2 separate regions of the Homo sapiens genome follow, and region 2 is linked to region 1. Evidence: fine-mapped expression QTL. Tissue or cell type: sun-exposed skin. Region 1 holds a variant in brackets; the other region holds the start of a gene. All regions are shown on one strand. Distances are from middle to middle.

Region 1 (2,770 bases):
AGGAGAATCACTTGAACCAGGGAGTCGGAGGTTGCAGTGAACTGAGATCGCGCCACTGCACTCCAGCCTGGCAACAGAGCGAGACTCAGTCTCAAAAAAAAAAAAAAAAAAAAAGAAAGAAAGAAACCTAGGTGACAGGTTGATCTGTGCAGCAAATCATCATCATGGCACATGTTTCCCTATGTAACAAACCTGCACATCCTGCTGGCTACATGTGTAGCCTGGAACTTCAAATAAAAGTTGATGGAAAAAAAAGAGAAAAATAAAAGTAAAATAAATAAGACAGTTTATGTTGTCGTTTTCTGTTTGTTTTGAGACAGAGTCTCACTCTGTCACCCAGGCTGGAGTGCAGTGGTGTGATCTCCGCTCACTGCAATCTCCGCCTCCCAGGGTTCAAGCGATTCTCCTGCCTCAGCCTCCCAAGTAGTTGGGATTACAGGTATCTGCCACTACGACCAGCTAATTTTTTGTATTTTTAGTAGAGACGGGGTTTCACCATGTTGGCCAGGATGGTCTTGAACTCCTGACTTCGTGATTCGCCCACCTCAGCCTCCCAAAGTGCTTGGATTATAGGTGTGAGCCACCGCGCCCAGCCAACACTTAGTTCTTATACAATGGGGTCAAGTGTGCTATAGGGCAGATGATGAAGTAACAAACTGCCTGGAGAAGGGTGGAGTGGTTATCATGAAGGTATCACAAAGAAGGACCATTTGAACTGAGGAATACGTAGGAGTGATCCGAAGGGAGACAAGGAGGAGGGTATCTGAGGAAGAAGGAAGAGCAAGAGCAGACGCATGGGGTGTGAAAGGGCATGCCCATGTGGGAACAAGGGATTGTCCCAGAGCACGAGGGAAGGCATAGAGTGTAAAGGGAGGGTGTAGGCTTGCCTTGCCAATCTGATTTGTTGCCTGCTGCTTGGCACTGACGAGCAATTCTACCTGATATCCCTTTAATTATCAATGCTGGCCTTGAAACTAGCCTCAAGAGATTCACTCCAGAACCCTTTATAGATACAAATTTTAAAAATCAAGAGGGTTTTTCTTTCCCTATATGTAAAATGTTTGGTTTGAATGATAGGGTATGTCTCATTAGTACAGATCCAAAAGCAAGCTGTGCAGACATCTTGTGCAACAATCTAAATTCCAAAGCAGATGATGTCACCTATCTATGCCCTATAAATGGAGCATTGTTTCACATGTATCTGAACAATTTATCTGCACGAATACCCCGTGCTACCAGAATGGCTGTCT[C/T]AGTACTTCGCCTGACAGTTGTCCTGGGACTGCTTGTCTTATTCCTGACCTGCTATGCAGGTAAGTGCTTCTGATCACAGCCCATGAATTGTTCAGTAGTTAGCAGTGACTAGAGAAAGCTGATGGCACTGATTCAGAACATAAAAGAAAGAAGGGGTCTTTGGGCACTCCAGAAAGAGCACTGGCCTGGGAGACAAGAGGTGTATCTTCTAACACAAAGAAAGTAGAATTTTAATAAAAACCTAGCCTCTATTTTCAGTGGATGTATGAAGTTTGAAATTTTTTTATGTGCTCTTATGATATAATGACACTATTCTAGTATAAATTCCATGGGAGCTGACTGGCATTTATTTTTTGATAATTATTCCTAATAATGTTCATTGGTGAAGAATATGTACTCTGGAATAAAACTCCTGTACCTGGCTCTACCACTAACCAGAAATGTGACTTTAGGAATGCTATTCAATCTCTCTAGGCCTCACATATAAATGGGGACATTTAACTTTCTCGTAAAGTTATCATGAAAATTAAATAAAAGGAATGAAACAAATTGGAAGGGTACCTGGTTGATAGTAAGCATGCAATAAATACTACCTGCTATTGTTGTCATGTATAATCTCATTTGGTTCTCATAGTAATCCAATGATGTAAACATGTACAGTTTTATCATTTTCCTTTTTGCAGGTTAATAAACAGGTTGCAGAGGGCAAGTTACTTGAGCATACATACAGGTGAAAGTGGCATCTGGGAGTGAAACCTAGGTTCCTAGATTCTTTCTACTATTATCGAGCAACTATTTCTTTCCCACCTTTTCCAAGCACATAGAAGCTCATGCTGTATGCTGCCTTCTCATTAATTAATTTACTGTTTGTCTGCAAAAGTCTGTGAGCTCCATTCAGAATGATAGACCAGAAAACAGAGGGAGTGCAAACATTTAGTGACAGAATCCTTTGAATGTAACTTGGCTGAAGAACACACAGACAGACATTACAACAGAATTACTCTAGACATGGCCACGGATATTATTCAGTCCATTCTACTCCTAAAGAAATCACTACAGTGAAGTGAAAGGAGAGATTTGATACCAAGACCAGGCACCACCCTGTCTCTTATAAACTCTGAAACTGGTTAAATCGTTCACTGCTTTGAACCTCAGTTTCTTTATCTGTAAAACGGGATAACTATCAACTTCACCAGGTCAAATGAATATGCTTTTTAATTACTTTGTAAACTATTAAAACTCTACAAATATCAGCAATACTGTTTATTAAGAACATTATATTCACATTCACTAAGAAACTCAACAAAGTAGTTACTGTAAATAAAGGCTATCCCATATAATACTTGAAAAAAGAAAATATTAAACTATTGACTTTGAAGATTGTTTCTAGGATATCAATCGTTTAATATTTTAATAGCATTTTTAAAATTTATATTATCTTCTAAAGCACTAGAGGAGAAAGTGAATTATAAATCATTTTGCTGCTATTATTATTAATAGTAACAATAAAACAGATAAC
Region 2 (2,635 bases), 75 kb after region 1:
TCCTACTTGGAAGCTAAGAAGTTAGCCTGCCACATTATAATGGTTTCTGGCAGAAGGCACAGACTCCTGGCTCAGAGAAAAGGGACTTAATTATTCCATAGCAACAGCCAGAGTATTGGAATTTGTTCTGGTTTCCCAAGCCCCAATTTCCACAGGCCAATTTAAGGGGCATCAAGTGATAGTTGCAGGGAAAGTACAGTGTGTTAAAGGAAAGAAAGGCCAAGCTTTTAAAAACCCGAAATCTTTTGTAAAGGGCAATTAACATGGTCTTTGCCCTAGAAGGAGATATTAACTTTATTACACTAAACAGTAAACAAACCTGCCTTTTGGTGCAGAGGGAGACATTACGTATTTTCTAAGGTCGTTTGTTATATAAACACCCTTAAAAAGATAGTCTGAAACAAAGGTTATCAGTACCTCTACTCATAAGACACACCAAAACATGAGAGAGGATGGAGAATTCTCTTCTAATAACACATGGTAGATATCCAGCACATATTCTCTTTTACCCAGCACATATTCTCAGATGAAAGAGTAACCCTTTGAATTAGGTGTTATTATTATTTTAATTTCCAGATGAATACACAGAAGCACAGCAAAAGTGGCTCCAACAAGCACCCTCTAGCTCCAGAATACACGCTTTAGGGAACTGAGTCCTCTCTCTCTCTTGCTTTCTCTTTCCCTCTCATCTGCCACTCCATCAGCTACTTTAGGTTTTGTGAATGAGTGAGGGAAAAATAGAGAAAAGAGAAAGAAGAATAAGAAAGGAAGAGTGGAGGAAAGGAAAAAAGAATGGAGAGGTTTTACCCTACTTGGAATAAAATTCTTTCTAGTAGCTATCCATACCTGCTCATCTATCCAGAACTACAGAGTAGAAGGGATCTTTGAGTTCATCTTACAGGTGAGAAAACAGGCTTGAGAAGGGAATGACTTTCCCACAACCACAGAGGGAGTTAGGGATCAAACTAACCACTAGAACTATTTTCCTGACAGAATCTTTGCCTTGCATGTTTCAGGCCCACCTGGCTCCTTTCACCTTTCTTACACAGGTGACATTCCCAGAACCTGGAGGCCAGGCTATGACACAGAGTCAATCAATAACCAGGGAGATCTGTGATATAGCCCAGTAGGTGGGGCCTTGCTGCCATCTGCCATATGACCCTTCCAGTCCCAGGCTTCTGAAGAGACGTGGTAAGTGCGGTGCAGTTTTCAACTGACCTCTGGACGCAGAACTTCAGCCATGAAGGTAACAGGCATCTTTCTTCTCAGTGCCTTGGCCCTGTTGAGTCTATCTGGTAAGTGTTGCATATTTTTCAAATTTAAATAAAACTGTTTTGACCTGTTGCTTTGTGAAGCACATTATCTTCTAGACTTTTGATGTAGTCTAGTCTTCGAGAGATGTTTTGGACCTAATGAGATGAAATAAAATCAACAGGTAAGAATTATTTTTTAAGAGGAATTTTTAACCTACTATAAGGAAAACAATTCTACTAGTAAGAAATTCCCAGAAATAAAATGGTTTTCCTCTATTGATGTGGCTGACCCTTTGTTGGGATATGGTAGAGAAAAAAGGGTAAAAATATTTTAACTTTAAGTATACTTCTCATTCTGTAAATGTGTAAGGCCAAATTACAAATTTTAAATTCTCATGGGATTGCATAAAATAGATAAATGGCTTCCAGTTATTCAGTATAAAAGGCATAATTTGACTGATTAAAAATTTATTTTTTTATTGTATAGGTTTCAGTGTACTTGAATCATGTATAGTTTGTCAGATTTATCCCTGAATAGCTAATATATGTGATATAAAGGGAATTTTTTATTTTCAATTCCTGGTATTTCTTATTAGTATCTGGAAATACAAAAATTGCATTTTGTGTATTTACATTACACATTTTGAATGTTTTGAAAGAAAATATTCTGCTTGAATAGATGGTGCACATATACCTCCAACTGCATCTTGACAATGTTGACAGACAACTCTGAACCCGCAGAGCCAAGATCAGTTTCCTTTTTATCACTGGAAATGGTTAACATTTTCAACTTCACCTCTCATGTAGTGAAGGATCCTGTGGAGAGCCAAATCAGCACTTTGCTAAGAAGAGGAAGAATATTGTTTGTTTTATTTGCTGAATATTTATGGCAACAGTCAGTGTTCCCTTTCCCCCTCCTCATGCATGTTAATTAATACAAATAGATGCCTGTGATGAGCACCTGCTCTTCAGTTTTTAGACTCAACTAGATTCTAAAAGCCAGTGGGCCCCCAACAACATCAAGTTCTGACTATCCCGGGGGAAATTCTCCAAGCTCATAGATGCCTCACTAATTTTCATTACATTTAGATACAAAGAACTACCTCTTTGCTCAGATCACCTCAAAGATTGATGATATTAAAATTAATTTTCAGGAATGTTTCCTTATTTGATTGCTATCATATTAGTTCCCTTTCCCTTCCATGAACTTATCCACAGTTATCATTTCCTATATGTTGTCAGCAAAACCTCTGCTATTTTCTGGGGGAATAGAGATTAGCTATTTTGACTACCTGTAAATTCAACAAATGTGAGTTAGACCCATAGTCCATATGATGCAATTGTTGGAAATAGCTCTTTGGGAACTGATAGTGAGTTGGCAA

Alleles and levels. Alleles are on the strand shown, and positions count from the first base shown. SD is a standard deviation of normalised expression in the study named.
With allele T in place of C in region 1, the expression in sun-exposed skin of the gene that starts at base 1,147 in region 2 is lower (small effect, 0.30 SD a copy in GTEx).

What was found. PIP is the estimated chance that this variant, and not a neighbour inherited with it, causes the effect. A credible set is the group of variants that fine-mapping cannot tell apart.
Region 2: SPINK1 starts here. The variant in region 1 is the best candidate, but not a certain one, in a credible set for the expression of SPINK1 in sun-exposed skin (GTEx, PIP 0.54).

Annotation. Positions count from the first base shown.
Region 1 is chr5:147,904,972-147,907,741 of GRCh38, reverse strand. C5orf46 (chromosome 5 open reading frame 46) reads left to right here and starts at 1,204. Exons shown (of 4, transcript NM_206966.3): 1 at 1,204-1,310. The coding sequence starts at 1,241. The variant C/T (reference allele first, on the strand shown) is at 1,251.
Region 2 is chr5:147,830,183-147,832,817 of GRCh38, reverse strand. SPINK1 (serine peptidase inhibitor Kazal type 1) reads left to right here and starts at 1,147. Exons shown (of 4, transcript NM_001379610.1): 1 at 1,147-1,295. The coding sequence starts at 1,241. LOC124901101 (a long non-coding RNA gene) reads right to left here and starts at 2,313. Exons shown (of 2, transcript XR_007058987.1): 1 at 1,948-2,313; 2 at 1,207-1,409.